2 separate regions of the Homo sapiens genome follow, and region 1 is linked to region 2. Evidence: fine-mapped expression QTL. A gene starts in region 2. The other region holds a variant in brackets. All regions are shown on one strand. Distances are between the middles of the regions.

Region 1 (8,322 bases), 69 kb before region 2:
ACCAAGAGCTGGCTTTGCAAGGTAAGGATCCACTGTCAGCGTTGGATTTCGGAGTGGAGGTTGAGATGGAGAATGACTTCAACCTAGCTCAATTTGGGGGCTGCTTTTAGGTGTTTAGTGCCTCCTTCTCTTCCTTATTAACTCCCACTCCTACTACAGGTTGGTGTGCTCAATTGTATGTCTATAGCCTGCCTCCATCTCCCAATCTGTAATCCAGCAAGTCTGTCGGGGTGGAGGGGTGTGGAGCTCCATGGGGGCAAGATGATAATTCCATTCGGTTTTCCTGTGCTTTGGAGTTTGCATGACACTTTAACGAGTCTTCTTGTGCCTATCCTTAAGAAAGTCTGTGAAGCCTGATGTGCGTGGCTATCAATGTCATTTACAGCTCTTCATGGTGGGGCTTGGAATAGGGCGAGGGGAGGAGGTGACAGGGAGAAGACCTGGGTACCCTCAGTAGATGTTCTGGAGATGTTGAGAGCATGTTGTAGGGGCTTCGATTTGGGAGGTTCAGTGGGAGCCCGTGGAGGTTTCAGGCATCTAAGGCAAAAAGAAAGAGGGGAGAGTTTGGGGGAGGGAGAACGGATTGTCAAAAACACCCTCTCAAAAGCGTGTTAAAGCCTGGGAGTGGAGGGTGGTCTAGGAGAGTCGGGAGGGCAGGGTGGGAGGAGAGGGGGATGTGTGGTGGTGGTGGTGGTGGTGGTGGTGGTGGTGGTGGTGGTGGTGGTGGTGGTGGTGATGGTGGAGAGCCCAGCTGCAAAGATGAACAAAGCGGGCGCTGTGCAGGCTGGGGGAGGTGCTGCTGTGGGAAAGGGTGGGTGGGGGGACCTTGGGCTCCAGCCCCACAAGGGCGTCTTCTTTGGCTGGCCAGGCGGACGGGACGGGGGACGGGGGCGGGGACTGGCGGGAGGGGGGCGGGACAGGCTCGCTCTCCTCCTACTTAGCGAGCTCCCGGGGAAAAGCAACGGTGTCCTCCTAAGCCTGAGGCCACCGCGACCGAGCCGAGCCAGGCTAAGGGACCAGTGTCTCCCTGCCCCCCCCCCACCTCTAGGTAAGAGCGCCCCGTCCCACTACACTTGCGGGTCCCATTCGCTGCGGTGCTAGGACTGGATAAGGGGAAGTCCCCGGGGCCTGGCGAGAGCCCTGAGATCAGCTCTAGGCTAGGGAGCTCGGCAGAAACCCGTGGGGGAGAGAGGGCACCCCAGGTGAGTGCGTGGGGGCGAAAGGAGCGTTATGGGGAGTTTTCCTGTGAGCCTCTTGCTTTTGCCTTCCTCGGCCGCTGCCAACGCCACCGCCAGAGGGGGCCGTGACGCTCTCCCCCCCTTGGAGAAACTCTGATCCTGGCCCTATCCAGACTCTCCCGCCGGCACCCAGGCGGCCGGGCGGACACTCGCGGGGTATCGGGCGGCGAGCGCGCGCGCGGGTTTTCGTCCTCCAGCGCCCCACACCTCCCCCTCTCCGCCCACAGCAGGACCTTGGGGCGGGGGTATCTCCTGTGACGTCTCCCCGCCTGTCCCCAGGCCGGCCGCCTTGATGGACCAGGAAGGGATTCGGAGTCCGGCTCAGAGTCTTGAGCGTCTAGGAGGGCTGCCTGGGGGTGTCCAGGAGATGGGAAGCCCGCCTGGGGCCTCCCAGGCACTCCCCAAGGCCCCACGTCCTCGGGGGCCGGGGAGGCCGCCTGGGGCGCCTTGCCACGCCCGCGCGGTCCCTATTGGAATCCCTAGCGGAGTTCCCCGAGCGGAGGCTGACCCAAGTCATCCGGGCTCCCCCGGGATAGGGAAGTGCGGGCGGGCGGCTGGGTAGGGGCGCCGGCGCAGGGTGGCCGAGTCGCCCGCTAGCGCTTCCGCCGAGGCAGGCTCGAGTGGGGACTTGGCCGGGCGACCGCACAGCCCTGCCGGGGACCCACGGCTCTGGGGCGGGGCTGCATTCTGGGCCGTTAGCTCAGCGGTCCTGGAGCCTCCCGAGGCTGACTCATCGGGCGGCGGGCTCACCCCCCAGCCGTCAAACGCAAACGCAGGCGCCCCACCACGCCGGGCTCCCACGCGGCACACACGCACGCCTCCGCGACACTTCGCACACCTACGTCCCTGCGTCACGCCACCCAGACACACCCGGACCCGCCCACACGCCGAGGCCTTCCCACGCACTCCATGCCTTACGCCTCACAGGAAAGCGCCCCGCGCTCACGCAGCCCCTCACACCCGCAGCCCCGCTTACACGCGCCCCAGCTCACACATGCACCCCAGTCACACAGCCTACCTCACACACGCACCCCAGTCACACACACAACCCAGCTCACACACGTACCCGTCACACATGAGGCCCCAGCTCACACACGAAGCCCAGCTCACACACGCAGCCCCAGCTCTCACACACACACCCCAGTCAAACACGAGGCCCCAGCTCACACACGAAGCCCAGCTCACACACACTGCCCCAGTTACACAGCCCAGCTCATGCAAGCAGCCCGTCACACACACAGCCCAGCTCACACACACAGCCCAGCTCACACAAGCAGCCCGTCACACACACAGCCCAGCTCACACACACAGCCCCAGTTATACACACACAGCCCAGCTCACACACGCAGCCCGTCACACACACAGCTCAGCTCAATACACAGCCCAGCTCACACACACAGCCCCAGTTACACACACAGCCCAGCTTACACACACAGCCCAGCTCACACACACAGCCCATCACACACACAGCCTATCACACACACAGCTCAGCTCAATACACAGCCCAGCTGACACACGCAGCCCAGCTCACACATACACTCCAGCTCACACACGCAGCCCGTCACACAGCCCCAGCCACACACACAGCCCAGCTCACACACGCAGCCCAGCTCACACATGCAGCCCCCTCACACATGCAGCCCCAGTCACACACACAGCCCAGCTCACACCGCAGCCCCAGCTCACACACGCGGCCCCTCACACACATTCAGCCGCCCTTCCCGCAGCTGCCAGGCTCGGAACGGGCGGTGTCTGTGGGGGCCGCCCCGTTTCCCGGCCGCGCAAACAAGCGGCTCCTTCTCTCTGCCCCGCCAAAGAAAGGCCGCTTGTCAGGGGCGGGCGGGCAGGCGGCAGCGGCAGGCGCCCAACACTGCGGCCTTGTCCCACGCGGGCAGCCTGGGCAGGAGCAGGCCGAGGGGTGCAAGGGGCCGCTACCTTGCGGAAACCTCCCTCCCTCGGCCCTGCGGACCGCGGAGAGGCACCTTTCCACCACCGGACACCCAAGCAACAGCCCTCGCTCCATCCGCGCTCTCCCGGCTCCCCCTCTCCTCGGGCCGCCCATCTCTCCTCTCTTCCGCCTTTGGGGTCCCGGTGGGCCCCAGCCTCCCTCTCCTTCGCCCCATCTCCCCGCCCGTCAGCCTCCCCTCCGCTGCCCTCGCGCATCCCCAGTGTTCCCGTCTGTCGTCGCCTCCACTTGAGGACCCGCCTGTCCTTTCTTCCCCCGACCCCTCCACCTCTGTGTTCTTCAGTCTCCCCGCATCCTCTGCCCTCGGTCTTCCCCTCCCCAGCTTGCATTTTTTCCCATCTCTTAGTCTGCCTTTCATTTTCCCCTTCACATCCCGGTGGCTCCCCTTCCCCGCCCCGTCCCTCTGCACACCCCCATTCATCTCTGTCAGGTTTTTCTCATCCTTAAGTTCTCTCGTCCCCCTCCCCACTCGGGCGTCCCCCGCTGGGCTCCCCGCCTCAGTTTCCTTCCCTTCCTGACTCCTTCCTCTGACGGCGGCCCTTTCTCGAGGGCGGATGTGCGCCTGGAGGGCGAAGGCGGCGGCCGAGAGGACCCCAGCTCGGCCTGGCGGGCCTCTGGCCACAGCCATGCACCGCTTGGGCCGAGGCCGAGGCCGACCCCCAGGGACACAGGTGAGGCCGGGCGACCCGCGGGGCTCCGGGGAGCGCCCGAGCAGTGGCCCCGCGAAGGGCCGGGTCTGGTGCTCTGGGGCTGGCTTTGGACCTCTCGTCCTGGGACTCCGTGGGAGCCCGGGAGCTGTGTCAGTGCCCGTTGGTGCTGGAGCCAGTCGGCCCTTCCTTGGCCTCCTTCAGGCGGGGGCC[A/G]AGACCCCCGAGAGTTCACTCTGGGTGCTCCACTCGGCGGAGAGGGCTTCAGACTGGTGTCCCGCGTGGCTGGGGTGTCGGCGCATTCCCGCGGGGGAGGAGGCCGAGGGCCCGGGCCGGGGTCACCTGCCGGCGCCCCGGCCTTGCGCACAGAGGGCCTTGCCTGTCGCTCGTCAAATCCAGACACCTGGGCCTCCGCCACTCGGCTGCCGGGGCGGCACTGGGGCGTCTGTACCCAGCGTGCGGGAGGGCACCCAGGGCCGGACGCGCACCGCAGGGGTCTTTTTTTGGCCGCGGGGCCGGGCGGGCGGGTAATGACAGCCGGGTTGCTGGGGAGCCGCGGGCCAGATGGAAGCGGGGCCGCAGGTGAGGGACGTCCCTCGCGTAGCGCCACTCAGCCGCCGGGGCCAGAGCGGGAGTCAAGGTGAGGGCGCCCCCAGGTGGCCGCTCTCGGCCGCGGCGATCGCCCTTTGGGAAAGCACCGCCTGAGTGCAGGGCAGGTTGGCCTGGTGTCTCTTTCCACTTCTCTTGGATCAGGTTACTGTGCTGGGGCCACAGCCTCGCACCTCCCAATCTCTCCATCTTTTCTTATCTTCTCCCCACACCTCTCTCCTTATCTCTCCCTTTACTTTCGCCTCCTTATTCTCTTCTCTCCTCTAATCACTCTTGTTCTCCATCGGCCTTACTCCTTTACAATCTTTATCTCCACTTGAAGTTCTTGGGTGTAAATAAATGAGCACACCACAGCTGCCCCACACGGCGATAGTGACCAATACTCCAATATGACAGATAAATAAACTAACGCCCAGACAGGTGAACTGCCTTGCTCCAGGTCACACAGCTCATAATAATAAACGGGGCCAGGCGCGGTGGCTCACGCCTGTAATCCCAGCACTTCGGGAGGTCGAGGCGGGCGGATCACCTGAGGTCGGGAGTTCGAGACCAGCCTGACCAACATGGAGAAACCCCGTCTCTACTAAAAATACAAAATTAGCTGGGCTTGGTGGCAGGAGAATCGCTTGAACCCGGGAGGTGGAGGTTGCGGTAAGCCGAGATAGCACCGCTGCACTCCAGCCTGGGCAACAAGAGTGAAACTCCGTCTCAAAAAAAAAAAAAAAATAATAATAATAATAATAAATGGCATTAAGTGCTTTGCTTTCACAGAATGCCATTTAATATAATACCTGAATTTCAGACAGTCCTTTTTAAAAAACTGACAGCTTTATTGAGGTATAATTTATATACTATAACATCCACCCAATTTAAGTATGCAATTAAAAGATTTTTAGTATATTTACAGAGCCATGCAATCATCACAATTTAATTTGAAAACATTCCCCCCACCCCACCCCCACCAAACTTGTGCCCTTTTACAGTCACTCCTCATTCCACCCCTAGCCCCAGGCAAGCACTGATCCAGACAGTCTTTTTTATTTTTTTCCATTACTCTAGTTTTATAGAAGAATAACTTGATAATCAGAGAAGTTAAATAACTTGTCTAGGATCTTATAGCTAATAAATAAATAAAGTCAGGGTAGAATTTAAGGCTTTATATATCCCAGTCTAAAGTTCTTTCTACCAAAGGATGATGTTTCTCCTTCACCATTATTTATTATTTTGTTTTTCTTAACCCCTTTTTTACATAAACTCCCCATTCCCAACCCACTCTCTTGCCCCTCCTCCCTCAGAAAATGCTGAGGGATTTCCCTGAGTCTAAGGAAGCAGTACAGCAATCTTTGTCCTTGGAAATTCTTCTCCATGGCCAGGAATTCTGGGGAGGTGCCAGGCCAGCTTGGGGCTTTGCATAGGTTAATGGCGTTTTCCCTCCCCTCTTCCCTGGCAGTCTTGGGGTGGGCCCCAGCCTGGGTTCCGGCCTCTCTTCCGCCAGCTTGGGTGGAAATGGTGACGGAGATGATGCAGTCCAGGTCCGGAAGGGTGGAAGCTGGGAGGGTAAATTTAGTAACACCATAGCTAAGGTCCTCGGGACCCACTGCCAGGGTCAGACACTCCTTGGAATGCGGGCTGCTGCCCCTACTTCCTTTCCAAGTCCCCTGGTAGATGGCTTGAAGAGAGAGTGGAAGGAAACCCTGTTTCCCTGGGTCTGCCTCCTTACCCCTCAGCCACACTCTTAGCTTTCCCCAGTAACATTTCAGCAGCAAGTGGGAAGTTTCTCAGCTTAGCTAGTTGGCCAAGGGATGGGCATGGGGGCATACATTAGTACACAAAGGTCCTCACATCTCAGATACCAAAAACATGAGCCAGGGAGAGAGGGATGCATGGTGGGTGAGGGGCAGTGGGGTGGTGGTGGGGAGTATTCAAGTTCTGGCTCTGGAATCTGTCTTACTCCTGGTTCTAATGGTTTAAGCTTCCTATAGCACCTAGCCAATTAAGAACCCAAGAGTTGAGCCCAATATTCCCAGTATTAGTTATCACTAAAGTTTTTTGTTTTTAATTAAAAAAAATTTTTTTAGCTGATTGTGTTGGGTTGAGGTTGCTTTCTGGGGAAGAAAAGGTGTAGGAGTTGAGACATCTGGAGATAGCAGGAATGGCTGAGTTTTTCTTTTGTGTCTCCTTTAAGAAAACATCCTACTAAAGCCCTGGGAAAAGAGACAAATGGTGAAGAGGAGAATGAAAGGTTGCAGGAGGGAGCTCCTGTTTTAGCCCTGCCACCTACCTGGGGGCCCTCTGGCTACCAGTGTCCTTGGAGGGGCTTCCTTGCTGCTTCTCCCACTAAGGTAGATTTTCCCCACCCTGCTTAAGGCTCCACAGGGCCAAGGGTCTTCAGCTGTCAAAACCCGGGTTCTGAGTAGCATAGGGCAAGAAAGCACAGAAGTATAGATTGGGCCCTATGGGACTGTTTGTGCTTACAGTGGCAGGGGGCAGGACTGGTATCCATGCTGTGGCTGGCTGGAGACTTGGCACTGCTCCCAGACAACTCCCACCCAAGCTCTTTAGCTGCCTCTATTTCCCTTCAGCATGAGCATTTGGGGAATGATGGTGACTGGTGACACCTCTGCCCTGAGAACCCTGCCACAGAACCTACTTCTTTCCCTCTCCTGCCCTGGCCTCCCCACTCACCACCTTTCTGCTGTGTCCCTAGGAGCTCTGGAGCCTTAGGACCATGGACGCTCTCAATAGGAACCAAATAGGCCCTGGATGCCAGACCCAGACCATGGTGCAGGTGAGTGGGATCAGGGCTGTGAGGCAAGAGAGATATAATAGGGATGGGATCAGCTCTTCTACCCCCTTGTGGTCCCAGCCCAAGGATGAAAGGAGCAATTCTGTTCCTCTCTGCCCTTCCCCAGGTCCCAAGCCTATTAACAGCTCAGTCTTTATCTGAATCAGGTTAATTGGTTCACCCAGAAACTACCCATCGAAAGTCCGAAAGCAGTTTACAGATTGACCCTGGGCTGTATCACTCTCCTTGATCCATGCCTCTATCTTCCCTGTACTTGAGCTTAGCAGGGGCAAGCAATGGCCACGTGGATAGCCATGGACAAGTCTGCAGGGAGCTTGATTGGCCTTCCTCTACAGTACCCCTGCTGCTTATCCAATGCCACCCCCACCCCCCACCCCTTTCTCCTTGCTTCTGTTTTAATAGACAAAAGGCACAGTTAAGCCAAGACTTGCGATAAATCCAGTGGGATGAGTTAGTGGCCTAGATTCAGATCTAATTACAATTTAGTGGAATCATGCTCTGTGTAAGATTTTGTGCTAAGCCTTTCAGCACCCTCAGAGCCCTTCGGAGAGGGGCGAGGGCTGGAGAGAGTGCTGGTGTGACTGGTTTAGGGTGGTAAGGTGCTGAATCTAATGATGCTTGTCCTCCACCCGTACTACCTACAGAAAGGACCCTTGGACCTGATCGAGACAGGCAAAGGGCTGAAAGTGCAAACGGACAAACCCCACCTGGTGAGCCTGGGCAGTGGGCGACTCAGCACAGCCATCACCCTCCTGCCGCTGGAGGAAGGTAAGTGTGAACAGGGCATCTCACTCACCACCCCTCTATCCTTATAGGCATTCCTGCCCTGGAGGCCCACCTCCTGCATGTGTTGGGGCCCTTCTACTGTCTGCTGGTGCTCGCCTCCCCACACCACCAGCTTGCTTCCCTTGTCTCTGCCTCCCCAGACTGCCTGCCTTCCTTGGTAGATGATCTGGTTCCACGACTGGGCTTAAAGATCAGCTTAGAAACAAGGAGGAGAGGCCAGGTGTGGTGGCTCACGCCTGTTATCCCAGCACTTTGGGAGGCTGAGGCAGGCGG
Region 2 (8,322 bases):
AATTTGCTAGAACAACTCACAGGACTCAGAAAAGCTTACGGTTATGCTTAGGGCTATAGTTTTATTATAAGAATACAAGCCAGGATCAGCCAAATGAAGGGGTGCATGGGGCAAGGTCTAGGGGGGCCCTGAATGTAGAGCTTCTGTGTCCTTTCCCCATGGAACCAGGACGTTTCCCCTCCTGGCTCATCAATGTGTTCACCAACCAGGACTTGGTATTTATTTGTTTTATTTGTTTGTTTGTTGAGACAGGGTCTCACTCTGTCACCTAGGCTGGAGTGCAGTGGTGCAATCTCAACTCACTGCAACCTCCACCTCCCAGGTCAATGATTCTCACGTCTTAGCCTCCTCAATAGCTGGGATTACAGGCATGCACCACCACACCCTGCTAATTTTTGGCATTTTTGGTAGAGACAGGGTTTCACCATGTTGGCCAGGCTGCTCTCAAATGCCTGGCCTCAAGTGATCCATCCACCTCGGCCTCCCAAAGTGTTGGGATTACAGGCATGAGCCACTGTGCCCAGCCTACTTACCAGGACTTTGAAGTCCAGAGTTTTTATTGGGGTTTCATGACATACGCATGATTGATTGAATCATTGATCATGTAATTGAACTCCATCTCCAGCCCCTTCTCCTCCCTGAAGGTTGAGAAGTTGGGCTGATATCATGTGGACCAAAACCCCAACCCTCTACACACATGCTTGGCCTTTCTGGCACGGCCTGCCTTCATGTGGAGTCGTCTTGTTAGCAGAAGCTGTCTAGGGACCCACCATAAGTCACCTCATTAACAAAAGCTACCAAGAGCCTGGGAAACATGGCAAAACCCCATCTCTACAAAAAATACAAAAATTAGCCAGGCATGGTGGCACACACCTAGTCCTAGCTATTCAGGAGGCCAAGGTGGGAGGATCACCTAAGCCCAGAGAGATTGAGGCTGCAGTGAGCCATGACTGCACCACTGCACTCCAGCCTGGGTGACAGAGTGAGACCCTGTCTCAAAAAGCAATCAGGCCAGGTGCAGTGACTCATGCCTGTAATCCCAGCACTTTGGGAGGCCAAGGTGGGTGGATTGCTTGAGGTCAGGAGTTTAAGACCAGCTGGCCAACATGGTGAAACCCCGTCTCTACTAAAAATACAAAAATTAGCCAGGCGTGGTGGTGCGTGCCTATAGTCCCAGCTACTTGGGAGGCTGAGGCAGGAGAATCACTTGAACCCTGGGGGCAGAGGTTGCATTGAGCCAAAATGCTCACCACTGCACTGCCAGCCTGGGCAACAGAGCTAGATTGCTGTCTCAAAAAAAAAAAGAAAGAAAAAAACAACAACAAAAAAACACTAATCAGGGACCACTATTAATAACAGACATTCCTATCACTTGGGAGATTCCAAGGAGCTTAGAGGTTACTTTGGAGGAACCCAAGACAAAAATGAAACTAATTCCTCATTATACAAGAAGTGGCTTATACATGAAAGGATTGACTCAGCAGGTCTGCTGTGTTCAAACCCTGCACATTTCAGAGAAAATTCTGGCCTGTGACCAGCCCTGAGAGATGAGATTTAAATTACCAAAATATGCTGCCTGATAAGTCTTTGTTTTTCTGGGGCCTTGGGCCATGCCAGATATTTGATGCTAATAATGTGATTTGTGGCAGGGGCCTTTGGCCGCCCAGTATCAGTTTGAACTCTGGAGAGTGAGTAACTGAGGTCAGCCACACAGGTAGTCCACGCTTTCATCACTGACCTCCAATAAAAACACTGGACACCAAGACTCAGGTGAGCTTTTGTGATTGGCAATACTTCATGCGTGCTGTCACATGTTATTGCTGGAAAAATCAAGTCCTGTCCATATAAATCCACTGGGAGAGGAAAAACTGGAAGATTGAGATTATTTTCTCCTGGACTTGGCCCTAGAATATTTCACCTTTGATGGCTTTAACATGTATCTTTTCACTGTAAGAAACCATAATCAAGGCTGGGCACGGTGGTTCATGCCTGTAATCCCAGCACTTTGGGAGGCTGAGGCAGGCGGATCACAAGGACAAGAGATTGAGACCATTCTTGCCAACATGGCAACACCTCTGTCTCTACTAAAAATACAAAAATTAGCTGGGCGTGGTGGCAGGTGCCTGTAGTCCCAGCTACTGGGGAGGCTGAGGCAGGAGAATCGCTTGAACCCAGAAGGTGGAGGTTGCAGCGAGCCGAGATTGCACCACTGCACTCCAACCTGGCGACAGAGCGAGACTCTGTCTCAAAAAAAGAAAAAAAATGAAACCATAATCATGGTATAACCATTTGGAAGTGTTAGTGAATCACTGGCCTGAGGTTGGTCTTAGGGAACACCAGTAAAGTCATCTTCCCCTACATTTGGCAAACAGCCTAATGCTTGACAAAGCACTGGACCACCCAGCCTCTCTGAAGTCCTCATTACAATTGCTCAGGACAAAACCTATTAATTATCCCAGGTACACTTTTCCCCTTTATATTCCACAATTGTCATGGGCAAGCACTGTCAACTCTCCCTGTAACACACACCCTCTATTGAACCCCTTGTCTCTGTCTCTAGTCTAACCACTGGAACCCAAGCCCAAACCTTGTTGCCTGGAGCCCCGCTCTCCCCGGACCTGTTCCCACTCTGCCCCAATCACACAGGCCTTCGTCCCAATCCCTGAACAGTGCGTCAGGGCCTCTGCATGGCCCTTTCCATGCCTGGACTGTCCTCTCCCAGATCAGCTCAGCAATGGTTCCTGCCACAATTCTGCTTACACATCACCTCCTCAGAGACACCGTCCCTCCCCATCCTCTCTAACACACCCTCTGCTCACCCACACCAGCGGGCCCTAACTTCTCTCTACTTCAAACTGTGCTTCTGTTACTGTTTTGCTTCTATTATTATTATTATTATTATTTGAGATAGAGTTTTGCTCTTGTTGCCCCGACTGGAGTGCAATGGCATGATCTTGGCTCACTGCAACCTCCACATCCCAAGTTCAAGCGACTCTCCTGCCTCAGCCTCCCGAGTAGCTGGGATTACAGGCGTGCGCCACCATGCCCGGCTAATTTTGTATTTTTCATAGAGATGGGGTTTCACCATGTTGGCCAGGCTGGTCTCGAACTCCTGACCTCAGATGATAGCTCCCACCTTGGCCTCCCAAAGTGCTGGGATTACAGGCATGAGCCACCGTGCCCAGCTGTTTTTCTTCTATTATTATTGTTCTTGCAGGAGCTGGTAAAGTGGCTGATGTGGCCACAGCTCCATAAATCCATGTGGAACGAAGGGTGGACATCGCCTGAGTCCAGGAGACAGGACAGGGTCACTCATCTCTGTCCCTGGTGATGGAAACTCAGGCTCAGGAAAGAGCCTTGACCTGCCCTGGGTCACAGAGAGAATATGAGGGTCAGGGCTCAAGCCCAAGTGCTGTCTTCAGGCCCTTAGGCTGCCTCTCACACCCAGACTAGGAAGCTGGAGCAGAAAGTTTGCTAGAACAATCCTGAGAAGAGGCCTGCACAGTTCAAGGGGCAGCTTGGAGGAGGAGAGGAAGGGAGGGCGGGCTCTGGCCAGCAGGCTCTTGGACCTCAGGCCAGGCTCTGGCAGCTGCGTCTGGTATCAGGACTGCAGGTCCCGACAGGGGGCGGTGGCTCACGCTTGTATTCCCAGCACAGTCGCCAAGCCTAATGTCCCTTCCAACGGTGGAAAATTTTGGTAAAAATCAATGACAGGCTGGGCGTGGTGGTGCATGCCTGTGATTCCAGCTACTCAGGAGGCTGAGGCACGAGAATCTCTCGAACCCGGGAGGTCTAGGCTGCAGTGAGTGGAGATGGTGCCACTGTACTCCATCTGGACGACCGAGCAAGACTCTAACAACAACAACAAAAAAAACGGACTGCAGGTGCAGTGCCCAGCACAGAGCCTGCTACATAGGAATTCTCATTTTCTTCTCTTCCCTACTCTTTCCTTCCTTTATAATCTCTTCCTTTCCCTCTGAAGTACCGACCCCAGAGCTTGAGATCTCATCCCAGCCTCCCTCTTATTGCCATCCTCCCCTGCTGCCTTCCCCACACCCCTACCTCTCACAGGGTGGGGGTAGGGCCTCCTGGGACCCCAGTCCCAGCCCCAGCAGCAGTAGCAGGCACAGCTCCCAGGTCCTCCCTGGCATGGTGGCTGTGACTGTGACTGAATGAGCAAGCCCAGGCACCTTCGGCTTGCTGGGCACAGCCTGGCTCACCTGCCTGTCCAAGTCGGCCAAAGTCCAGCCTTTGAGGCGTGGCCACCTGAGGGGACGTGTGCTTGGTCTGTGTGTGGCCCGCTTGCCCCTCCTGCTCTCAGGGCACAGTGGCCACCTCCCTTGCTTCTACTTTGCCTCTTCTATTTCACAGTCTCAGCTGGTGCCAATGGCTCAGGCCCTTCCCTCAGAGCATGGTGGTGGGGGTGGGGAGTGGGCACCCAAAGGCCAGGGACACAGTCGAGGCCACACACCTGTAACCTGGATGCCAGGTTCCTTGGGTGGCCCCAAGACCACCAACCTCAGAGAGTTACCATTTCCCTTAACATTTCAAATGGAATGGCTCAAGATCCTGTCCCTGGTGTGGTGTGAAATTCAGGGCCTCTCACTGTTATCTGCAAGAGATACAGCGGAAGCACAGGACAGTAGAACCATTCTGTCTGGGGAGGACTAAGGGAGACCCACAATAGTGTGTCATTTGTAATGAGTCTTTTTTTTTTTTTTTTTGAGACTGAGTCTCACTCTGTCGCTAGGCTGGAGTGCAGTGGCGTGATCTCAGCTCACTGCCACCTCCGCCTCCCGGGTTCAAGCAATTCTCCTGCCTCAGCATCCTGAATAGCTGGGACTACAGGTGCCCGCCACCACGCCCAGCTAATTTTTGTATTTTTAGTAGAGACGGGGTTTCACTGTGTTGGCCAGGATGGTCTCAATCTCTTGACCTCATGATCTGCTCGCCTTGGCCTCCCAAAGTGCTGGGATTACAGGCGTGAGCCACTGCGCCAGTCCTAATGAGTCTTGATGACCGCATAGGAGTTTGCCAAGGGAAATGGGCTGGAGACCACTACAATGTATGCAGAGCATGTGAAGAGAAGAGCAAACCCCTCAGCCTAGCTGCAGAGAACTTGGTGTTCATGCAGGGAAGGGTTTTGAGATAGACTGGAGGAACATGTTGGCACCAGTCTGGAAATGGTCTTTGCCAAGCCAAGGAATGTAATTCCTTGTAATTCCCCAAAGTGGAACCAGCAGAGAAGTTTGTGAGCTTAAGAAGCAGATTCAGGCTGGGTGCAGTGGCTCATGCCTGTAATCCCACCACTTTGGGAGGCCGAGGCGGGTGGATCACCTGAGGTCAGGAGTTCAAGACCAGCCTGGCCAACATGGTGAAACCCCGTCTCTACAAAAATACAAAAATTAGCTGGGCATGATGGCGGGTACCTGTAATCCCAGCTCCTCAGGAGGCTGAGGTGGGAGAATCGCTTGAACTCGGGAGACAGAGGTTGTAGTGAGCCGAGATCATGCCACTGCACTCCAGCCTGGGCGACAGAGTAAGTCTCTGTCTCAAAAAAAAAAAAAAAAAAAAAAAAGCAGATTCGGTTACTTTAGGAGGCTCATCCCCTCAACATATGGAAGGTGAGCTGAAGGGACAGGGGACAGGGGGTGGGCAAGGCACATGGAGTTTAATGATAGGCATGACCTCTCCTGAAGGACTTAGGTTTGCAGTTAAGGATGTCAGTTGTGGCACCTGAGCAGTGTTTACTGCTATTAAAAAGAAAAACCTTAGACAAATTAAATTTAACCATTTATTCAAGCAAAGAAATGACTCATGAATCAGGCACCACTCTGAACTAGTAAAGGTTCAGATAGCTCCACCCAGTAATGTGGGCAGCTGGCATTGTTTTTTTTGTTTGCTTTGTTTTTTGAGACAGGGTCTCGCTCTGTTGCCCAGGCTGGCATGCAGTGGCTCCATCACAGCTCACTGCAGCCTTGATCTCTCAGGTTTAAGGGATTCTCCCACCTCAGCCTCCTGAGCAGCTGGGACCACAGGCACATGCCACCACGCCCAACTAATTTTTAAATTAAAAATAATTTTTTTTTTTTTAGAGATTGGGTCTCCCTATGTTGTCCAGGCTGGTGTGGAACTCCTGAGCTCAAGCAATCCTCCTGCCTCATCCTCCCAATGTATTGGGATTACAGGTGTGAGCCACCATGCCTGGTCAACAATTTTTAAGTGTACAATTCAATTTCCTTTTATTACATTCACAATGCTGTGCAACCACCCTTGCATTCTTTGGATAAATCTCACTTGGTCATGATGTCTAATCCTTTTAATAAACTGTTGGTTTTGGCTTGCGAGTATTTTTTTGAGGAATTTTGCATCAATATGTATAGAGCATATTTGACTGTAATTTTCTTTCCTTGTTTTGTTTTGTTTTTTTTTTTTTTTGGACACATAGTCTTGCTCCATCACCCAGCAGGCTGGAATACAGTGGCATGAACACAGCTCACCACAACCTCGACTTCCTGGGGCTCAAGTGGTCATCTGGCCTCAACCTTCTGAGTAGCCAGGACTACAGGTGCATGCCACCACGCCTGGGTAATTTTTAAATTTTTTTGTAGAGACTACATCTGACTGTGTCGCCCAGGCTGGTCTTGAACTCCTGGCCTCAAGTGATCCTCCCGCCTTGGCCTCCCAAAGTGTTTCTCCCCAAGTGTGAGCCACCATGCCCAGCCCTCTTGTGATGTCTTTATCTGGTTTTAATATCAGGGTAATGTTAGCCTCATAGCATGAGTTAGGAAATATGCCCCTCTTCTATTTGTGGAAGTGTTTGAGAAGGATTGTTAATTCTTTAAATGTTTGGTAGAATTTACCAATGAAGCCATCTGGTCCTGGACCGTATTAGGCAGAAACAATACATATATGGGGGATGGGGGTAGAGAGAGAGAGTTTGAGAGGTAGCTGGCAAGTCCAAAATCTCTAGGGTAGGCTGGCAGGCTGGAGAAACAGGGAAGAAGCTGCAGTTCAAGTCTGAAGGCAGCATGCTGAGAGAATTCCTTCTTCTTCTGGGGAGGTCAGTCTTTTTCAAATTAAAGTCTTCAACTGATTGGATAAGGCCCATCCAAGTTAGGGAGGGTAACCTGCTTTACTCAAAGTCTACAAATTTAAATGTTATTTTCATCTAAAAAATATCTTCACAGAAACATCTAGAATAATGCTTGACCAACTATCTGGATACCTTTGCCTAGCCATGTTGACACATAAAATTAAACATCTTTTTTTTTTTTTTTGAGATGGAGTCTCGCTGTGTTGCCCAGGCTGGAGTGCAGTGGCATGATCTTGGCTCACTGCAACCTCTGCCTCCTAGGTTTAAGCGATTCTCCTGCCTCAGCCTCGTGAATAGCTGGGATTACAGGCGCCCACCACCACACCCAGCTACTTTTTGTATTTTTAGTAGAGATGGGTTTTCACCGTGTTAGCCAGGCTGGTCTCGAACTCCTGGCCTCAGGTGATCCACCCGCCTTGGCCTCCCAAAGTGCTAGGATTACAGGCATGAGCCAACGTGCCCAGCCAATGTTCTTTAAAAAAACACATGACTCTACAGTGATTGTACTAACTTACATTCTCACCAACAGTATATGAGGGTTCCTTTTCTCCACATCCTCACCAGCATTTGTTATTGCCTGTCTTTTGGATAAAAGCCATTTTAACCGTAGTGAGATAATATCTCATTGTAGTTCTGATTTGCATGTCTCTGATGATCAGTTATGTAGCGCACCTTTTCATATACCTGTTTGCGACTTGTATGTCTTCTTTTAAGCAAGGTTTATAGTGATTCAGATCTTCTGCCCATTATGCAGACTGGCTTTGTTCTGGGGGAACACCTCATTATATTGCGCAGGCTGGTCTCAAACTCCTGGGCTCAAGCAATCCTCCCACCTTGGCCTCTCAAAGTGCTAGGATTACAGGTATGAGCCACCATGCCCAGCCAGTAGTGTTTTTTTTTTTTTTTTTTGAGACGAAGTCTTGCTCTATCACCCAGGCTGGAGTGCAATGGCATGATCTTGGCTCACTGCAACCTCCGCCTCCTGGATTCGAGTGATTCTCCTGCCTCAGCCTCCTGAGTAACTGGGACTACAGGCGCCCACCACCACACCCGGCTAATTTTTGTATTTTTAGTAGAGATGGGGTTTCACCATATTGGCCAGGCTGTTCTTGAACTCCTGACCTCATGATCCACCCACCTCAGCCTCCCAAAGTTCTGGGATTACCGGCATGAGCCACCACGCCCGGCCTCCAGCAGTTCTTTTTTTAGTATTATATGTTTACAAC

Alleles and levels. Alleles are on the strand shown, and positions count from the first base shown. SD is a standard deviation of normalised expression in the study named.
In carriers of allele A in region 1, the expression in esophagus mucosa of the gene that starts at base 4,174 in region 2 tends to be lower than with G alone (small effect, 0.31 SD a copy in GTEx).

The links. PIP is the estimated chance that this variant, and not a neighbour inherited with it, causes the effect.
Region 1: its variant is fine-mapped to the expression of TREH in esophagus mucosa (GTEx, PIP 0.96).

What each region holds. Positions count from the first base shown.
Region 1 is chr11:118,606,652-118,614,973 of GRCh38, forward strand. PHLDB1 (pleckstrin homology like domain family B member 1) reads left to right here and starts at 964. Exons shown (of 23, transcript NM_001144758.3): 1 at 964-1,048; 2 at 7,165-7,245; 3 at 7,908-8,031. The coding sequence starts at 7,186. LOC124902765 (a long non-coding RNA gene) reads right to left here and starts at 1,860. Exons shown (of 2, transcript XR_007062908.1): 1 at 1,472-1,860; 2 at 1-537. RefSeq lists silencers at 1,456-1,545, 1,606-1,675, 4,191-4,250 and enhancers at 1,803-2,097, 2,135-2,809, 2,810-3,483. The variant A/G (reference allele first, on the strand shown) is at 4,065.
Region 2 is chr11:118,675,477-118,683,798 of GRCh38, forward strand. It overlaps TREH (trehalase), which reads right to left and starts at 4,174. Exons shown (of 15, transcript NM_007180.3): 1 at 4,063-4,174. The coding sequence starts at 4,151. RefSeq lists enhancers at 3,404-4,065, 4,066-4,725.